4 linked regions of the Homo sapiens genome follow. The protein of the gene in region 3 purifies or fractionates together with the protein of the main gene of each other region. This does not show direct contact. Each region holds a gene or a part of one and is shown on either strand. Other genes may lie near its edges.

Region 1 (5,294 bases), on a different chromosome or scaffold from region 3:
TGAGATCGTGCCACTTCACTCCAGCCTGGGCAAAAAAGAAAAGCATATTAGCCTGCCTGATAAAACAAGCTTCCTCCTATCATCAAACACTAAGAGGAATCTATACAATCTTCAGGTTGTCCTGTGTCACCTACTGAAAGGGTAGCTTACAAAATGGTTTTACAGAAGGTACAGGTGTCTGTTCCTCATATCCACCCTCAATACAAACAGAATGTTAATCCCCAGACCTAGAAGGGTATAACTAGAGGGAGATAAAGGAACCCAGAACAAGGACACAGCTTTCTGGTGACGTGGCCTGATGCAGAGGATAGAGCAGAGAATGTGGAATGTGCGGCTAACATGGCCCAACAGCCCCTCCGCATTTGATGTACAATTTCAGGCTGAGGTCTCTATAGTATCTGAGTGTAGGCACCTCGTGAATTCACTTCCTTCTTCGCTTCCTTCTTTAGGCCTTCATTTTTGCTCTTGATCCAGCCTTTCCTATTGAGGTAGGTGTGTGTGTGTGTGTGTGTGTGTGTGTGTGTGTGTGTGTTTGTGTGTGTGTGTGTTTAATCCACGGTTCCTGGCTCATAACCTCCACAGACCTTGTTCCAGTCTTTTCACTATAATGTTGGGTGTGTTAAGCCTCAGGAAACAGAATCTCTCTGTCCTTCCCCTGCCCTCCTTTCACCTGCCCCAAGGCAGGACTCGAATCTTCCCCAGCCTTTCTGACTAAGGTCCCTCCCTACACCCTGGAGGATGGAATGCTGCTGTCACGAAGCTTCCACAAAAACCCAAGAGAGCTGGGTTTAGAGAACTTCTGGAGAGCTGAACATGTGGAGTTTCCTGAAGGGTGCTACACCCAGGGAGGGCATGGAAGTTCCACGCCCCTTCCCCCACGCCTCGCCCAATGCAACTCTTCATCTGTATCCTTTGTGATATCATTTATAATAAACTGGTAAATGTGTTTCTCTGAGTTCTGTGAATTGCTCTAGCAAATTAATGGAACCCAAAGAAGAGGTCACGGGAAGCCCAACTTGAAGCTGGCTGGTCAGAAGTTTTGGAGGCTTGAACTTAAGGTCCGAGATCTGGAAGCTCTCAGACTTGAGGACTGAGTCCTCAACCTGTGGGATCTGATGCTATGTCCAGGCAAATAATGTGCAAATTAAACTGGTGGACATCCAGCTGGCAATGGCTGCTTGGTGTTTGGGGAAAATCTCGCCCCCACCCCCACCCCGCAATTTGGTCACAGAAGTCTTCTCCTGTGTTGATGACAACTGTTGTTGCCTGAGAGCAGAGGAAAACCATGGTTTGAGAGTTTTTCTGGAACACCTATCCATACCTTCCCCCAACCGAGGGCCTTGCCCTACCAATTATCCCCTCTCCTGTCTGTATCTTCAACTTCTAATCCTTCAGCATGTAAAATACACCCAAGGCTGACCCATCTTAAAAACAGCAGCAATCTCCTCTAGTTCCTCTCCACCTCTCTCGTTTCCTTCAGAGTCAGGCTGCCTGAGAGAGTGTCCTAAAGATTCCATCTCCCCTTCTGACCTCCCACATTCTAGACAAGAAACATCCTCAAAGGCACAAGGCCTTCACAAGACTATAACTGAAGCCTCAGAGTTCTTGGAATTACCTCTGCAGACAGCGTTTTTACGAGTGGGACTAGAGTCAAATGGGCTCGCTGGACTGCACAGGCTCCGCTTCAAGTAGAGCTTTGAAAGCGTGTCCCCGTTAACCAAGTTAATTTACATGTTGAATAAAGTTATTCAGCAGTATCCATCTGATTGCTGTACCCACTCTGCCAAAGATGAAAATATTGACTTGAATATAGTTGCTATTGAGCGTCCCCATTTCTCCCAGTATTACTACTGGCTGCTGCTGCTGCTTCTTTTTAATATATAGAGATGGGGTCTCACCATGTTGCCCAGACTGAACATGAACTCCTGGGCTCAGGTGGTCTACCTGCTTTGGCCTCCCAAAGCGCTGGGTGTTACAGGCATGAGCCATTACATACAGCCTTTTGGCTTCTTCTTAAGGACATTTCTAATTTGTTGATAAACTCATGTGATCACAAAGAAAAGGAAGAGCGTCTCTGCATTCCCTAAGGCAGAACACGTAAGTGGCTCATCTCAGAACAAGATCAAGTTATTCAAGGTATGTTAAAGGAAAAAATGAGGCAGCTGGAAGAGGGGGAATAGGGTGCTGCCATTTAATGGGCATAGAGTTTCAGATCTGCAAGATGCAAACGTTCTGAAGATGAGCTGCATAACTAATTTAAATATACTTAACACTACTGAACTGTACACTTAGAAATTGTTAGGATAGTAAATGTTAGGTGTATTTTATCACAATTTTAAAAATTTTTAAAGAAAAGATAAGGCCATTTAGCACATTTTGTTCAGCAAGCGATACTGAATTAGGGCTAAAATTTGTTCTGTTTAAAGCCACCTCTCCTGTATTCACTCATATGGAGTCGGATTTTGATTAAGGCAGTAAAGGACCTTATATATATAGATATTTTATATATATTATATTTATTATATATTATATATTAATATATTTATTATATATTAATATATAATATATATTTTTTCTAATTTTTTTTAAATTTTTTATTATTATACTTTAAGTTTTAGGGTACATGTGCACAACGTGCAGATTTGTTACATGTGTATACATGTGCCATGTTGGTGTGCTGCACCCATTAACTCGTCATTTAGCATTAGGTATATCTCCTAATGCTATCCCTCCCCCCTCCCCCAACCCCACAACAGTCCCCGGCGTGTGATGTTCCCCTTCCTGTGTCCATGTGTTCTCATATAAGGACCTTATATTTTTTAAGTCATTTTCATACTGCCTGGCCCACAGATAGATAAATCTCCTCTCTCTCTCTCTCTCACACACACACACACACACACACACACACACACACACTCTCTCTCTCTCTCTCTCTCTCTCTCTCTTTCCTACTTATTCTTCATACAGATTCCTAACAACCAGGGGTCCAAGCTTTTCCCTCCCTTTTCTTTTTTGTTCAGTAAACATGAATGTGCTTAAGGGCTTTCTGGAAAATGGACCTTGGGGGAGAAAGTGAGTTGTGCTTTTGGAGAATAGGATGTATTCTACTTTGAGTATGAGTTGAAGGAATTATACCTGAGGTTTAGTTTGCCAGGAAATACTTAGTTTTAAAAAGTGTACCTGTCCAACCTGTAGGGGGGGAAAGCCTCTGGGAAAAAGAGATGCTGAACTGGAATGTCATCAATAAGGCTCAATGCCAACTGAGGTTATAAAAACTAAAGGACTCTGTCATGCGGCTTCCACTGAGTGAAGAACGGCACACTCTCCGAAGTCTTTAATGTCACCTAATGTTATCTATAGCTATTTCCCAATTTTGCAGATTTGAAAAACTAGAAAGTATCTGGACCACAATACCCTTGCCAACATGGAACATGTTACATATGGCCTGAACATGGGAATATGATACCTGAAACCAAACAGATGGGACTAGAGGGAAGCTAGCAGGAGGGTCTGAGCATGTGACCCCATTTCTGCAGACAGCGAGAGCACAGCACCTCAGGTTTTCTGGCCAGTTCTGCCAACAGGGAAGTGCAGAGAAAGGCCAGTGGACAACCAACTTGAGTTTGAATACACAGAATCTGGCAACTGTGTAGGACCCAAATGTTTTATCTGGCAAATGTCCACCTGACAGGAACATGGTTGCAGGTTAAGTAACAATCAGGCAGTCTGATACACAGGGACGGTGTGGCCTCAGTAGCCACAAAGACCTAATTTGAGATCCTAGTGACGCTACCTGAACAAGGACAAGCTCCTGGAACTTGAGTTTCCTTGTCTGTAAAATGCAGCTGCAAGTAATCACTCAAAGCGCCCTTAAGAAGAAAACCCTCACCAAACACTCAAATGTTCCTTCTGTTCCATGCCCATTGTTGGTCAGACTGGCCTCACCCAGTAATACTGCCAAGTGTTTAAGGAAACACTTAGCTCTGCTTTTGGCAGAGCAAATATTCTAACTTCCTCTGCTGCTGCAAGTGGGTGGGGCCCCGGATGGGGTGGGGACAGATCTCCTAAATTCTAACATAGAATCCATCTATATGGATTTGCTAATGCAAAAAAGCATGCTAATGGACACAGGCACCCAAAAAAAGACCAATTTTATGACAACCCTGTTACAGTGAACCATTTGCTCATGAAGGTGGCTTCTGAAAGATCAAAACCGCTTTTTTTTTTTTTTTTTTTAAAGAGATAGGGTCTCACTCTGTCACCCAGGCTGCAGTGCAGTGGCACGATCATAGCTCACTGAAGCCTCAAACTCCTGGGCTCAAGCTACCTCCTGCCTTAGCCTCCCAGGTAGCTGGGACTACAGGCGCACAACATCACACTCGGCTATTTGTTAAAAGTTTTTGTAGAGACCGAGTCCTGCTCAAAACAGCTTTTAGGAAAGAGCCCCAAGAATGGTAATATGGACGAAGAGGATGTAAATTTCTGCCCTTACCTTAGCAGTAAGGAAAATATTAAAGTGTTCATTGAAAGACAGCACAGGATGGTCCGTAATTCTTTTTAGAAATTTATCCAAAGCTTTTCTTCTGGTCTCCACAAACTCTTCTGAAAAACGATCCACAACACCTTTTACCACAAACTTCTCGGGAAGAGGCTATGAAGACATGAAGAAAAAAACCAGAGTAATTGATGAGATGGTGCAAGGAAAAACAACCAGGCTAGCACACAGTTCTATTACCCCTCTATCCAAGAAAAGTATTTCTTAATCAGGCAGATCTTCATGTAGTCATTAATATAAAGACTTCTGAAAAATACACATGGAGTAAATACCCTGTCAATTTTATAATGCAAGGAATAAAACACTAAATTATAGTCTCTGAAATACAGAAAAGTAGATATTTATCCAGTAAATTCAACAGTAATTTTTACATTGCTTGATGTACACGTGATATGATGGAAAAGTTATGGCAAGAAGAAAAGAAAAGAAGAAAAAGAAAAAGAAAAGAAAGAAGGCAAGCAGGCAGGCAGGCATCAACCACATAAAAATTTATTTAAATATTTTAAGATTCTGCTCCCAGTACTTCATTCCCCATTCATACTTGGTGAATGAATAAATTAGGTAAATTCATGTATCTAAAAAAAATACCTTTTATAGGCCAATTTTTTGGTTTAGGTTTATACTCAAAAGTTATTTAAAACGTAATTTCCTTTATTCCCCTTATTCAAATACATTTCTCTATTATACTGACTTAGAGTCAATACTGTGGGCAATTTAAAACTACCTGCCTACCAAGGGA
Region 2 (5,294 bases), on a different chromosome or scaffold from region 3:
TGCTGCGGCGGATCTCAGCCTCGTGCCAGCACCCGACAGCCTTCGAGGAAGCCATACCCAAGTCCTTCATGATCAGCGCAGACATGGCCCATGCTGTGCATCCCAACTACCTGTGAGTCTCTAGTGCCAGTCACACAGTCTTCACATAGCTGGAGACCCAAGCATAACCTGCCTTGAGGCTCTGCCTTGGCCCCAGCCTCTTCCTTTCTCCCTTCTTCATTCTGCCGGGAGGTTCACGGGCACTTCCTTTTCACTACTGCGAGACCAACTTGGTCAAAGTCATGCAATGCCTAACCCAGGTGTGTGGAATACACCTTTGTCTACAAACTTGTTTCCATCTATTGCTAGAGGCTGCCCGGAACCCTGTGTGTGGAATGACTCTGAAGTCCCACTGGGCTGGGCGGGAAAGAGTGGTGATCTATTAGTGATGTCTGCCATGGGAGGGTGGTGAGTGTCGACAGGCCTGCTCCTGTTTGCTATGTCTGGCCCTTATCTGTCTCTTACAGGGACAAGCATGAGGAGAACCACCGGCCTTTATTCCACAAGGTGAGACGTGCCATTTCTCCCTAGGGACTTGGAGGTCTGGCTGTTCCGAGCGCCGACTCATTCCCTTTGGGCCTGTCATTACCTCTGCCTCACCTTGACTCTCCCCAGGGCCCCGTGATCAAGGTGAACAGCAAGCAACGCTATGCTTCAAACGCGGTGTCAGAGGCCCTGATCCGAGAGGTGGCCAACAAAGTCAAGGTCCCCCTGCAGGTGAGGGTGGGCCCTGCCTGGGAAGGTGTGATGGAGGGAGCTTGGTGGGGGCACAAACAGATGGGCCCCCCATGAACAGGGAACCTGGTAGATGGCCTTGAGTGGAGGGGGGTCCCAGTAGAGTGAGAAAAGCAGGGATTTTGGATACAGCTGGATTCCATGCTGGCTCTGCTGCAGTGCTAGCTGTGTGACCTTGGACTAGTCTCCTAACCTTTCTGAGTCTCAGTTTCCACATCTGTAGAATAGGGGTGATAGTGATGCCTACTTTGCTGGATTTCTATGAAGACTGAAGGTACAGTGTGCTCCTGGCACATGGTAGGCCTGTCTTTCCCTGCAGCACCCCCACTTCCCCTGTGTCTCCTACACACCCTGGGGGCTTCCACAGGGAAAGTTCAGGGCTGGGGAGTATGGAACTCCAACTACTCATTTTCTCTCTTGCCTGAGAAATTAGACATCTAGTCCTTTCTCCTCAGTGTGTGTGTGTGTGTGTGTACATATATATGTTGTATACATGTATGTATATAACACATGACAGTATTGTGTATACACATATACACACATATATACTGTCATGCATTGCTTAACAACAGGGATACATTCTGGGAAATGGCATCATTAGGCAATTTTGTCATTGTGTGAGCATCATGGAGTATATGTACACAAACCTAGACGGACAGCCTGCTGCACACCTAGGTTGTGTGGTGTAGCCCATTGCTCCTAGGCTACAAACCTGTACGGCTTCTTACTGTGCTGAAAACTGTAGGTAACTGTAACAAAATGGTCAGTGTATCTAAACATAGAAAAGGTACAGAAGGCCAGGCGTGTTGGCTCACACCTGTAATCCCAGCATTTTGGGAGGCCAAGACAGGCAGATCACTTGAGGTCAGGAGTTCAAAACCAGCCTGGCCAACATGGTGAAACCCCATCCTACCAAAAAATACAAAAATTAGGCAGGCGGAGTGGTGCATGCCTGTAGTCCCAGCTACTTGGGAGGCCTTCCCTACTTGGGAAGGATCTCTTGAGCCCGGGAGGTGGACGTTGCAGTGAGCCGAGATCGTGCCATTGCACTCCAGCCTGGGCGACAGAGTGAGACCCTGTCTCCAAAAAAACAAAACCAAAAAAAAAAAAAAAAGAAAAGAAAAAGAAAAGTTACAGGAAGCATATGGTATAAAAGATTTAAAATGGTCCACCTGTATAGGGCACTTAGGAATGGAGCTTACGGCACTCGAAGTTGCCCTGGGTGAGTGGTGAGTTAATGTGAAGGCCTAGGACATTACTGTACACTATTGCAGACTTTATCAATGCCGGACACTTAGGCTACACTACATTTATTTTGAAAATTGTATTTCTTCAACAATAAATTAGTTTACTGTAACTTTTTAACTTTATTTATTTATTTATTTATTTATTTATTTTTGAGATGGAGTCTCACTCTGTCACCCAGGCTGGAGTGCAGTGGCACGATCTCGGCTCACTGCAACCTCTGCCTCCCAGGTTCAAGCGATTCTGCCTCAGCCTCCTGAATAGCTGGGATTACAGGCACGCACCACCATGCCTGGCTAATTTTTGTATTTTTAGTAGAGACGGGGTTTCACCATGTTGGTCAGGCTGGTCTCGAACTCCTGACCTTGTGATCCGCCCGCCTCGGCCTCCCAAAGTGTTGGGATTACAGGTGTGAGCCACTGCACCCGGCCAACTTTTTTACTTTATAACCTTCCATTTTTAAAATTTTTGACTCCTTTGTAACAACAGTTGGCTTAAAACACAAACACATAGTACAGCTATTCAAAAGTATTTTCTTTTTTGTATCCTTATTCTGTAAGCTTTTTTCTATTTTTAAAATTTTTCGTTATTTTTAAAATTTTTAAACTTTTTGGTTAAAAACCAAGACACAAACATACACATTAGCCTAGGCCTATACAGGGTCAGGATTATCAATGTCCCTGTCTTCCACCTCCACATCTTGTCTCACTGGAAGGTCTTCAGGGAGAGTGACATGCAGGGAGCTGCTATCTACCATGATAACAATGTGCTCCTAAAGGACCTGCCTGAGGCTGTTTTACAGTTAACTTTTTTTTTTTTTTCTAATAAGTAGGAGTACATTCTAAAATAACAGTAGGCTGGGCATCGTGGCTCATGCCTGTAATCCCAGCACTTTGGGAGGCCGAGGCGGGTGGATCACTTGAGGTCAGGAGTTCAAAACCAGCTGGCCAACATGGTGAAACCCCGTCTCTACTGAAAATACAAAAATTATCTGGGCATGGTGGTGTGCGCCTGTAATCCCAGCTACTCAGGAGGCTGAGACAGGAGAATCGCTTGAACCCAAGAGGCAGAGGTTGCAGGGAGCCAAGATGGTGCCATTGCACTCCAGCCTGGGCGACAAGAGTGAAACTCCATCTCAAAATAAATAAATAACAATAAAAAGCATAATATAGTAAACACATAAACCATAACATAGTCATTTATTATTCTTAGGTATTGCATACTGTACATAATTGCACGTGTTATGCTTTTATACGACTGGCAGTAGATTTATTTACGCCGGCATCGCCACAAACAAGTGAGTCATGCATTATGCCACAACATCGCAACAGCTGTGATGTCACTAGGCGACAGGAATTTTTCAGCTCCATTATAATCTTACGGGACCACTGTCATATGTAGTCTATCTTTGACTGAAATGTCACCATGTAGTGCATGACTGTCTATTTCTATATTTATCTGTCTACCTCTCTATATCAGGGACTCAGGCATGGGCGGTCCAGTGACAATCATAGCAGGTGTAGAACCGTGGTATCCTGACTCCCAGCCCAGGGCTCTTTCTGCTGCACAGTGTTCACTCTTCCTTTCGGAAAGCTGAATTGTTCTGCCCCCAGGAAGCCTTCTCTGAGGACGTGATATTTGAGCTGAGACCTAACCACTGAGAAATAGGCAGCTATGGGAGGGTCCCAGCCAGAGGGCACAAGTAGAAAGGCCCCAAGGGGGGCCAGGAATGAGCTCGTCTTTTAGGAGGAGAGAAAGGCAGGATGGTAGAGCCAGGATGAGAGCAGGAGAGGGTTAGGGGAGAGGCCCAGCTCAGTGATGATACAGGAATACCTAGGCCATGGAAGGACATTTCAATTTTATTCTAAGGCAGTGAGAAGACATTGGGAGATTTTTCTTTAATAATTTACAGCAGAAGTAGGACACATGTATTTTAGAAAATTAGAAAATACAGATAGAGATGAGAAAATAAAACACTAATCTGCAGAAATTTGGTATAGTCTTCCAGATTTTTTTCTATGCATAAACTTCATATACACTTTTTTAAAATGATATTATATTGGATATATTTTTGTTGCCTCTTTTCACTCAGTCATCTTCACCTTTCTATTTGAGTTTGGTTTTTTTTTTTAATGTTTTTTTAAAATTAGAAACAGGGTCTTGCTTTGTCTCCCAGGCTGGAGTGCAGTGGCATGATCATAGCTCACTGCACCCTCAAACTCCTGAGCTCAGAAGATCTTCCTGCCTCAGTCTCCCAAGTAGCTGGGACTACAGATGCATGCCACCATGCTGGCTAATTTTCTATTTTTAGTAAAAATGGGGTTCTTGCTATGTTGCCCAGGCTGGTCTTGAACTCCTGGCTTCAAGCAGTCCTCCCACCTTGGCCTCCCAAAGTGCTAGGATTACAGGCATGAGCCACCATTCCCAACCCCATTTCAGGAAATTGTTGTTTCAGTAAACTTGTACCTCATCTAATGCACAGATCACTTTCCGTTTTCCCCAGTTATCCTCAAAATATTTTTTTTACAGGTATTTGGCCCACCCTAGTATCCAACTCAGGACAATGCGTTATATTTGGCTGATATGTTGCTTAAATGTCTTCCAGTGTAGCACAGTTCCCCCCACCCCTTTTTAAATAGCATTGGCTTATTCAAGAAACTTCTGGATATGTCTCCTTGCTGCCCCATGGTGTCATTTAGCTTGTCTGTAAGCCCCGTATTTCCTATCAACTGGAATTTCTAAAGACTTGATGGATTCAAGTTAAACTTTTTTTTTTTTTTTTTTTTTTTTTTTTGACAGAGTGAGAGTTTCACTCTGTCGCCCAGGCTGGAGTCTAATGGCGTGATCTCGGCTCATTGCAACCTCCGCCTCCCTGGTTCAAGTGATCCTTCTGTCTCAGCCTCCAAAGTAGCTGGGATTACAAGTGTGCACCACGATGCCCAGCTAATTTTTGTATTTTTAGTAGAGACAGGGTTTCACCATATTGGCCAGACTGGTCTTGAACTCCTGACCTCAAGTGGTCCGCCCACCTCAGCCTCCCAAAGTGCTGGGATTACAGGTGTGAGCCACCGTGCCTAGCCTCAAGTTAAACATTTTGGGCTAGAAGACATGGCTGGTGTATTCATATGGCATCACACACATGATATCTGGGTGGGCCACCCTTAGCCTTGCAAAGATTGACCACTGGACCAGGAATGGCCTCTTATCCTTTCATTATATAGTGCTTTTCCCCTATTGACCTGACAGTGACCCATACAAGTGATGAGTTCCCTATT
Region 3 (5,294 bases):
CACAGTGCTCTGGCCACGTGACTCACCTGCTCATCAAGCCTGTGAATTCTCAGAGGGCACATCAGTGTCGCAGCCCTCTCTGTACCTGGTAGCTAGTAAGTGCTCAGCAAGTATGCGCTAGCTGAATCCGTACTATTGAGGGGGTTCCTGCTTTAATTAGGAAGTGTCTTTTTACACACACTCTAGCTCAAGAAGCTTTTATTTTTATTTTTTGAGACGGAGTCTCCCTCTGTCGCCCAGGCTGGAGTGCAGTGGCGCAATCTCGGCCCACCGCAAGCTCTGCCTCCGGGGTTCACGCCATTCTCCTGCCTCAGACTCCTGAGCAGCTGGGACTACAGGTGCCCGCCACCACACCTGGCTAATTTTTTGTATTTTTAGTAGACACGGGGTTTCACCGTGTTAGCCAGGATGGTCTCGATCTCCTGATCTCGTGATCTGCCCGCCTCAGCCTCCCAAAGTGCTGGGATTATAGGCTTGAGCCACTGCGCCCGGCCTAGAAGCTTATATTAAGGGAAAGAAGAATGGAAGGACATGCATTAATATTGTCAACAGGGCTTATCCCCCTTGGTAGTGGGGTGATAGGTAACTTTTTTTTTTCTTTTTTGAGATGGAATCTCCCTTTGTCACCCAGGCTGGAGTAGAGTGGTGTGATCTCGGCTCACTGCAACCTCCACCTCCTGGATTCAAATGATTCTCGTGACTCAGCCTCCCAAGTAGCTGGGATTACAGGTGCCTGCCACCACACCTGGCTAGTCTTTTTGTATTTTTAGTAGAGATGGAGTTTTGCCATGTTGGCCAGGCTGGTCTTAAACTCCTGGCCTCAAGTGATCTGCCTGTCTTGTTGGGATTACAAGCATGAACCACTATGCCTGGCCAGGTAACTTAAAAAAAAAATTAATTTTTTTTTTTGTAGTGATGGGGTCTCACTATGTTACCCAGGCTGGTCTCGAACTCCTGGCCTCAAGTGATGCTTCCTCCTTGGCCTCCCAAATTACTGGGATTATAGGCATGAGCCACAGTGCCCAGCCAACAGGAAACTTTTATGCTTAAGTTTTCCTTTGCACTTTTACATGTTTTCAAAATGTTTTGTAATAAGCATAATGTTACCTTTAAAATTAGAATCTATTTTAAAAGCTAATACAAATTTTGAAAGGTTAAATAAGTTAGGACTAAGTGACTTTTTCAGACATCCCTAGGTTATAAATCCTTGACTATTCCTCTATGGCAGGCAGCTTAGCAGTCTACTTCTGGGGTCCCTTGGAAAAATAAAGCTGGATAGGCCAAAATTTTGGTCATCTGCAAAGGGGAAGGCTGAGAAACCAGTGCCCAAATAGCTGGATGACTTTGGTCCTAGTTTCCACTCAACATTGTGCTGACCTGGACTTGGCTCGAACTGGCGATGGGACTCAGTCACTTGATGGTCCTCCCAGCTAAAGACCTGGAGAGCTCTGGCGAGCTGGACCTGCAGGCCCAAGGGACTTACGCTAACTGCCGCAGCAGCTCTGTGGAGCTTTTCCCACCAACACAGTTGAGAGCAAGCCGTGGCTGGGGCATGTCCTGGAAAACAACAAAAGTGCAGTGAGGGAGCATCCCCGCTCTACATATGGGGTCTGAAGCTTGCCCAAGTGCTGTGTTAAAAGGAGGGAGTAAATGAGATGTTTATGCCTTTGTTTGCGTGCACGTACTTATGTATATGTGTGTGTGTTTATGCCTTTGAACTCACCTTTTTCTCTGCTTAGGAAGTGTCTTTTCTTTCTTTTTTCTTTTTCTTTCTAAGACAGGGTCTCGCTCTGTTACCCAGGCTGGAGTGCAGTGGTGCAATCATGGCTCACTGCTACCTTACCCTCCTGGGCTCAAGCAATCCTCCCACCTCAGCCTCCCAAGTAGCTGGGACTGCAGATGAGTATCATGATGACCAGATAATTAAAAAAAAATGTTTTTTTGTAGAGACAGAGGTCTCACTATGTTGCTCAGGCTAGTCTCAAACTCTCAGACTCAAGCAATCCGCCTGCCTTGGCCTCCCGAAGTGCTGGGATTACAGGCATGAGTCACCTCATCCAGCCAAGAAGGGCCTTTTCTGTAGCAACTTAATCCTGTTGTCCATTTTAGGACCTGGCAGAACTCATCTTCTCTGGGAAAGAATAGGCAAAGGGCATCTGCATGCAGTTTGGTGGGTTTCAGCTCCCTGTGTGCCCCCCTTTTCAGTTCTTTGACTCAGCTGATATTATATATGCTGATCTACTGCTTCAGAAATGTTCGCAAGAAGCGCATGCTCTTGAGTGTGTGTCTTTGGTTCCTCCAGATGGTTCAGTGAAAAGGGGCTGAGGGTCTGGTCACTTACTAGGCATGTTGTGGGGTGGAGGTTCTGGAAGGTTAAGAGGCTTTGAGTTCGGAGAGACTGAGGCCAGCTCTGACTCTCTGGAGCCCTTATAAACTATATGATTTTGGTTAAGCATTTCCTCTTTTCTGAGTCTTAGTTTCCTAATCTGTAAAACAGATAACAGTTCCTTTGAAAAGCTTTTGTGGAAATCATCAGATAAAATGTAAGGCAGGTGGTTGGGAAAGGTTACTTCTTTTCTTTCTCTTTCTGTGTCTCTGTTTCCTCAGGTCCTCTCCTGCCAGTTCTAAGAGTCACACATGTGGGCTGATGCGGCCCACCACAAACGTTTAAACTGCAAGTCATACTGGGTTTCCTAAACTCTGTTTCTCATGCCTCCCTCCCAGCATCTGGGCACTTAATGCGTGCTGCCTGCCGCCTGGCTAGGGGGAATGGGCTTTAACCAACCAAGAGGCAAAGGGAGGTTTCCAGAGAGGAACAATGGGGCCAGTCCCCAGTTTCTCTAATGCATGTCAACTTTCTTCAGGGAGATGTGCGTGGACTGGAGGGGCAATGTCCCTCTTCCTAGGTACCTTAAAGAAGTTTTTCATTTCGGGCCTTCTTAGCTCCTCTTCTGTGATGACATGCTCAGCCCCCAGACTCTTCAGTCTGTCACTCAGCTTCTGGATATCAGGTCTGGAAACCAAACATAGGTCCCTGGTCACATCTGCCAGCTTTTTCCACCAAAGCCCCCCAGGACCTCTCTGCCACAGCTGGGAGAACCCGTGCTTCTTTTTGCAGGAAGCTGGGATTAGGTTTAAGCCAGGCTTGAGCAGGGACCAGCCACCTAATTTCATGCAGCTTCAATAGCTCTTGGCTGTCTCCTCACTGGCAACAGAGTGAGACTGGGTGGTTTTCACAGGCCCTGACAGCTCAATAGTGTTAGAAGCCATCTGTGCCCAGGGAGAAGTCACTTAACTTCCTGATTTCTTCTACTGAAAGGACAAACTCCACTTCCCCCCTCTTTTCAAGTGGTTCTTCAGAGTGTTGGACATACACAGTCTAGACCAGGAGTGGCTCTGGGTCTCTTTGGTTAAGGCAAATGGAATTATTTTTGCGAGTACAACTGAGGAACTGAAGCTGGTGTCGATTATACTAAGAGTGGGCTTCCATGACAGCCACAGCCACATTCATGGACAGTGAGGCCTAGAGAAACTGGACGATATGATGGAAAGAGAGTAAGTGAGGAAACCGAGTCTATTACTGACTTGCTGTGTCTTCCAGGGCAAGCTGCTCCCTGAAACTTCAGTTTCCTCATCTGTAAAAGACAGATGACAAACCTGCCCCTGTCTCCTTCACGTCTGTATTTAGCGCACTTCCAAGTACCACACAAAAGCAAGGGTAAAGGGGCCTTGGGTTAGACAGTTCACAGAAAGAATAATACAGCTCAAATCATTCCCAAATATCAACTGGGGTTTTGAAAACATGAGGTTATCACAAGCCAAGAGTCTCAGAAAGTCTTAGCTATTCAGTAAGGGCAGTCTCCACCTCCTTCCTGCCCTCTCTTTACATGTCAGATTCACTCATCCTATCGCCAAAAGCCAGCTGGACTTCATTTCTTAGGACTGACTCATCTGTTTCAGCCGCCAACTGTTAGCGATGCCTAAAGCCAGTTTATGCTTATGCAAGGGCGCCCTCTGGTGGACAACTGGGCACCGCAGGGATGGGAGGTGGGAAAGACCCAAGACATGGTCTGGGATGAAGCCTCCTTCCCCACGCACCTGTCTCGGACCACATTGATGGTTCTTAGGCCCAGGGCTGCGGCGATCTGGATGACTGCTTGCCCCACTCCGCTGTTGGATGCATTCTGGATGACAGAATCCCCTGTGGAGCCAGGAAGAGAACCAAATCAAGCCCTGTATAGATCTGCAATAGGTCAAAGGCTCCCAGCCGGGGATCCTTCTGTAGGCAAGGGAGTCCTCAGGCTCAACAGGGACCCAGGACCTGGCTGCTGAGTCTTCTCAGACCTTCCACTGTTTCTCACTGTTCTCCTAATGCCTCCTAAACTTCCACAACACTCACGATGCCTCCCAGGACTTGGCAACTCAGCATCTACACTGGATATAATTTAGACCCTGCCCTGCTATGTAAAATATTTTATAGCCTTCGTCATCCTCCCAACTTTTATGTCCTCAAGTCTTTACTTAGGTTATTTCCTTGGTTTGCAATGTTTCCCTCCTTCTCTCTTCCTTCCTATTGAAATCCTGTAGATCCTTTGAAGCGCAGCTCAAGTGCAGCCTTCATGAAGCCTTCCTGGATTGTTCCCTCTATGTGCTCCCACAGTGCTCTGTGGGCATCTGTATTAATGCACATACCACGGTCTGCCCCATCTTACACTTCATTGTATATAGGTCCATTTCTATCAACAGCTTGCAGCTTCTTGAGAGGGAAGGGTCATGCCCTATTCCTCTCTGCAGTGTTTAATAAAGGTGCACTGCCTTGAAATGGGATTACAGCTGCGCTGGAGAAACTGGCAGCCCCTGAAACAGGGTCCTACAGTTCTGTGGCAAAGCCCAGGTTTAGCTTTGGACCTGGCCATTGGGGAAGGCGGTGTGACATGCTGGGAAAAATGTGGGCTCTGGAATGAGACAGATCTGGGCATGAGTCTCAGTTTCACCAATGATTGTAACTAAACAGACAGGGCAAGTCATGACCTCTGTGAACTTCAGTTTCCTTCCCTTAAAATATAATCCCAGCTACTAGGGAGGCTGAGGCAGGAGAATCGCTTGAACCCGGGAGGTGGAGGTTGCAGTGAGCTGAGATCGCGCCACTGTACTCCAGCCTGGGTGACAGAGCGAGACTCCCTCTATTAAAAAAAAAAAGTGCCCCCGATTAGAGTCAAATGCATCGTGTCCGGGAAAGTGCTTTGTTGAATTTGAAATGCTATCTGGTTTTTGAGAGGCAGCAGGGATCTGTC
Region 4 (5,294 bases), on a different chromosome or scaffold from region 3:
ATCTTTTGCTGTGATACTCTTGGTAGATAGCTATATTTTAATGAATTTATTTTGTGGGGAGAGGGGAGGTTAGTGGAATACTTTTGGAATCTGGAATAAATAACATGTATCAAATAACGATACATGCTTTGGAGGATTCCTTGGTCTTAGAATCCCTGTGCAATTCTGTAAAAGAATACCAGGTTCTCTGGCATGTAGAAGTGAACTTGGGCAGGTGGAAATGGTTAACAAAGAATTCTAGGAGTAGAGAATAAGGTCTGAATCCTCTTAGGACAGTTGGGAGTTACAAAAAATTAACAAACAGAAACATTGAGATTGGTGCTTTAGAACTTGGAGTAAATTAAGAATAAAGGGAAGTAGACACCTTTAAAAAACAAAGAAAAAGAACTTGGTGAGTAAAAATAGAAAAGACAAATTATGGAGTAGGAAATAAAAACTCACCAGAAAAGTTGTCTTTTACCTCCTAAGGGAAAAGCTAAAGGAATTAGAGTTGTTTTGTCTAAAGAAAGGCAAGGGAAGACTCAATTTGTTGTTGTCAGTTATTAACAATTTATATAAAGAATAGTGTACTATTTCTTTTCTGTCTGCAGAGATTGAGCAGAAATGCTTTCAATTAAAACAAATAGATATGAGAGAATTGTTGATAGCCGGTAAAATTATAGACTACCAAACCTAGCTGGGCGTGGTGGCTCATGCCTGTAATCTCCGCACTTTGGGAGGCCAAGGCAGGCAGATCACCTGAGGTCAGGAGTTTGAGACCACCCTGGCCAACATGGCGAAACCCCGTCTCTACTAAAAATATGAAAATTAGCCAGGTGTGGTAGTCCCAGCTACTCGGGAGGCTGAGGCAGGAGAATCACTTGAACCTGGGAGGTGGAGATTGCAGTAAGCTGAGATTGCCACTGCACTCCAGCCTGGGTGACAGAGCGAGAGGCTGTCTCAAAAAAAGAAAAAAAAAAAAAACTACCAAACCAAGTTAAGTGTTATAACAATGTTTTAATGTTAATACTTTTTTTTTTTTTTTTTTGAGATGGAGTCTCACTCTGTCACCCAGGCTAGAGTGCGGTGGCGCGATCTCGGCTCACTGCAAACCCTGCCTCCCGAGTTCAAGTGATTCACCTGCCTTAGCCTCCCAAGTAGCTGGTATTACAGGCGCCCGTCACCATGTAGTTTTAGTAGAGATGGGGTTTCACCATGTTGGCCAGACTGGTCTCGAATTTCTGACCTCGTGATCCACCCACCTCGGCCTCCCAAAGTGCTGGGATTACAGGCACGAGCCACCGCATCCGGCCAATGTTAATACTTTTTTAAGAAAAAAAATTTTAACCTACCATTTTCATAGGCTTTACCTGTGAGCTTGCCTTAGTGCTGAACCCTGTGACTTTTCAAGGCTTCTTCCAGGTCTGTGTTTCTGCCTAAAATAAAAGTTTAAATCTTGGTGAAGATTGTCTACAGACAATTCTGAAAATTTAGTTTTCCTTCTACCAGAAAGAAAGAAAAAGAGAGAAAAGAATCTTCTAAAAAAAAAAAAGAAAGAAAATTTTTATACAGTAAGAAGTTTAGGAAATGAGAGAGGTAATGTGGTTCTTTTCAAACTTAGGTCATTTCATGACATATGTATGTTTATGTATCCCAGAGATTTGTAAGGTTATTTTTTAAAGATCATGGCCCTGTGAGAGGATTTTTGTTTCTGTTTTTTTGTTTTTTAAGTTAAATTAGCCACTTTAAAAATAATACTTTAGAAAACAGTGTTAGCTGTAGCCTTCTAAGTAAATTTTAAGTTTACAATGAAAAAGGATATATTTAGTATATGCCTGTTTTTTCACCCACATAGGTATTGATTACTTTTACTGCTAGGAGAGAACCTTGATTTGGATAATCTGGAATAACTTAATAATGTTTGTACTTGACTTTGAAATAAATAAAGGATCATTGTTTTCTTCTGTAGCCCAGTTCTAATTTGAACCTGGGAGTTAGAAGTGACCATACATCAGTAATAGCTAGACTGTGAATACATATTTAAGTAGATCATCAATAAATGTGTGGCACACAAAAGGATTATTGAGTCAACTTTCACAACTATATTTCAATATAAATTTATTTTAAAACATGGATTTTATACTTAAAAACATGTTGGAATTACTTGAAAAATTGGTTAAACAACTGCAGGATTTGGGGTAGGGCCCAGGATTTTACATTTTTTATTTAAAGGTCCAGCTGCTTTCAGTACAGATGGGCGATGGACCTTTTTTTTTTTTTTTAAGGTGGAGTCTCGCTCTGTCACCCAGGCTGGAATGCCGTGACATGATCTTGACTCACTGCAACCTCCTCTTCCCAGGTTCAAGTGATTCTCCCACCTCAGCTTCCCAAGTAGCTGGGATTACAGACTTGCACCACCACACCCAGCTGATTTTTGTATTTTTAGTAGAGATGGGGTTTTGCCATGTTGGCCAGGCTGGTCTTGAACTCCTGACCTCAGGTGATCTGCCTGCCTTGGCCTCCTCCCAAAGTGCTGGAATTACAGGTGTGAGCCAATGTGCCCAGCTGGACCATGATTTTGATTGTTGTCTTTTAAACTACAAAGGCTTTCCATTTTAAGACAGGTTTATCTGTCTTTTCTCTTTATGATTTATGTTTTTTCTGTTTTAAGAAATTCTTCCCTACTCCACATCATATAGACATGGGATTTGAGAAATACTGATTTTGAATAGATTGTTTTATACTATCCCTAAGGTTAACTGACCTTCATCAACCGCAATCATCAAATTTCTTAATTTAATTATGTAGTATTGTTTCTGTAATTCAGTGTTTTGCAGACAGTTGTGGACAATATGAATATTATTGACCCTTCATGTTAACTAGAAATTCAACTTCTGTCATGTAGCTTACCTACCTACCTACCTTCTGGATACAAGTAGAAAGCCCATTTAGCAACTGTCTGTAGTCCAATTGTCGAGAGGGTTTTGTTTCTGTAATTTTTTTTTTTTTTGTAAATTAGCCACCTAAAAAATACTTTAAAAATTAGTGTTAACTCTAGCTTCCAAAGTAAATTCTTTTTTTTTTTTTTTTTTTTTTTTTTTTGAGACGGAGTCTTGCTCTGTCGCCCAGGCTGGAGTGCAGTGGCACGATCTCAGCTCATTGCAACCTCCACCCTCTGGGGTTCACACCATTCTGCCTCAGCCTCCCGAGTAGCTGGGACTACAGGCGCGCAACACCACGCCTGGGTAATTTTTTGTATTTTTTAGTAGAAACGGGGTTTCACTGTGTTAGCCAGGATCGTCTTGATCTTCTGAGCTCGTGATCCACCCTCCTCGGCCTCCCAAAGTGCTGGGATTACAGGCATGAGCCACTGCGCCTGGCCAGTAAATTCTTAAGTTTAAAGTTAAACAGGATATTTTTGATATGTGCCTATTCTATAGTGTTATAGTTTAGTGGGCTAAGATTGAATAAAACTAAAGTCCCTGGTTTTTAATTCCCCAAGAGATTTTTGTATGTGTTCTTCTTCATTGAATAGGAACTCTTTTAAAATAAATATATGTCTCTTTTAGAATAGGTAGTAATGCCTTGATGGCTTGGAAGGCAGTATGTTATTAATTCTTTTAATTTGTAAAACATGGTTAATGATCATATTTTCATTGTGGGGGTTAAATATTACAAGTAAAACCATTTAGGTACTATTGAATAGTTGTTGAGTGATTAGATAAATGAGGTAGTTTTGGGGTCTAATGAAAGTCTTCTCTGTGCTTTTAGTCAGTTTATAATGAAACTACTAGACCCTGCCTTTTTGGGTTTTTTTTTTTGGTGTTTGTTTGTTTTTCTTGAGATGGAGTTTCGCTCTTGTTGCCCAGGCTGGAGTGCGTTGGCGCGATCTCAGCTCAGTGCAACCTCTGCCTCCCGGGTTCAAGCAATTCTCCTGTCTCAGCCTCCTGGGTAGCTGGGATTACAGGCACCTGCCACCACGCCCAGATAATTTTTTGTATTTTTAGTAGAGACGGGGTTTCACCATGTTCGCCAGGCTGGTCTCAAACTCCTGATCCACCCACCTTGACCTCCCAAAGTGCTGGGATTACAGGCGTGAGCCACCGCATCCAACCGCGTTTTTTTTTTTTTTTTTTTTTAAACACTTATGCAGACCTTCTATCAGCCCTGTAGGTGTACTGCTTATAGGCTTTATTTATCCACTTATTTACAAGTTTTGGGTTTTGTTGGTAGTGATTTTGAATAATTTGAAACTTGAGATTAACCCAAGTATTTTTCAGCTGAAGTTGGGCATTGTAATTGGGATAGTATTAGTTATAACTAATGTCTAGGTATACTCTTTAAAATGAATTATGATTTAATAATTCTATTTTTTTGCCATGGGAGCCATTTGTGAATTTTGCATTTCATATTTTGGTTCATTTTTATTAATATGCAATGAATAAATTTAGTAGCAAACTTAAAAAATGATAAAAATGAGCATCTATTGTGCTGAGCATGGCATGATGTAAATACTTTCTCTAGACTATTTGGAGACTGATTTAAGTTCTGTGACTTTTTGTCCTAATGTACAAATACACCTTGTGCATTTCATGGAGGGCAAACAGGTTATTGTCAAGCAAATTAGAAAATAGCAAGGTCCTGATAATGTTTAGAAGACTGGTGCTTCCTAATAGGTCTTACTTATGCTGGCAAGAAATCCTAAGTAGTCAAAATATTTAAAATATCCTTTATATGATTTTACCTTAACTTTCTGCCAAAAGTAAATTGAACTTTTGTATGTATGAGACATGGCATTGCCTACCAGCCCTTTATAATTAAAAGTAAGACTGGAGATGAATTTTTATGACCCCTCTTCGCCACTCTTTCAGAGCTAACTAATATTTTGTTCTTTTGGATATTTCTTGGTACTTGGATTAATCTGATTTATTAATAACCTAAATTGAAGTTTTTGTGGTGTCTTGGTCTTTGTTGTGAATGTTATTCTCTCATTTTGGCAGAAGTGAAGTTAAAAATGCTTTTTATTTAATGAAACACTAGCTAAACTAGATTTTATCATATTATAAAATCAATTATTTATGCATTAAGGCTTTTAGAGTGTTCCTAATAAAACTGTTTCTCTTATGTTTAAACAGGCTTTCTGTAACAGAAAGAAAGTGGTTAGGAGTAAGGGCTTTGAAATCAGATGGATCTGAGTGCTTTATCCACAGACCTTTGTGATCATAGGCAGAGCATATACTGTGCAGCTGTGTCCTCATCTGTAAAATGAGGATAATAAATCTCTGCCTCACAGGGTTGTCATAAGGATTAAATAT

What was found.
Region 1: the proteins of MECR (region 3) and SNX30 purify together in Homo sapiens (affinity purification with mass spectrometry; one large-scale study listed by BioGRID and IntAct). This does not show direct contact.
Region 2: the proteins of MECR (region 3) and DNPEP fractionate together in Homo sapiens (co-fractionation; one large-scale study listed by BioGRID). This does not show direct contact.
Region 4: the proteins of MECR (region 3) and SNX4 purify together in Homo sapiens (affinity purification with mass spectrometry; one large-scale study listed by BioGRID and IntAct). This does not show direct contact.

The regions. Positions count from the first base shown.
Region 1 is NC_000009.12:112,830,082-112,835,375, reverse strand, and holds part of SNX30 (sorting nexin-30), read right to left. Parts: intron 4,652-5,294; coding exon 4,493-4,651; intron 1-4,492. UniProt on the Homo sapiens protein: Involved in the regulation of endocytosis and in several stages of intracellular trafficking. Together with SNX4, involved in autophagosome assembly.
Region 2 is NC_000002.12:219,376,797-219,382,090, reverse strand, and holds part of DNPEP (aspartyl aminopeptidase), read left to right. Parts: coding exon 1-112; intron 113-506; coding exon 507-546; intron 547-654; coding exon 655-756; intron 757-5,294.
Region 3 is NC_000001.11:29,199,033-29,204,326, forward strand, and holds part of MECR (enoyl-[acyl-carrier-protein] reductase, mitochondrial), read right to left. Parts: intron 4,202-5,294; coding exon 4,099-4,201; intron 3,014-4,098; coding exon 2,911-3,013; intron 2,487-2,910; coding exon of another isoform or gene 2,342-2,486; intron 1,558-2,341; coding exon 1,484-1,557; exon of another isoform or gene 1,378-1,483; intron 1-1,377. UniProt on the Homo sapiens protein: Catalyzes the NADPH-dependent reduction of trans-2-enoyl thioesters in mitochondrial fatty acid synthesis (fatty acid synthesis type II).
Region 4 is NC_000003.12:125,498,587-125,503,880, reverse strand, and holds part of SNX4 (sorting nexin-4), read left to right. Parts: intron 1-5,294. UniProt on the Homo sapiens protein: Involved in the regulation of endocytosis and in several stages of intracellular trafficking. Plays a role in recycling endocytosed transferrin receptor and prevent its degradation.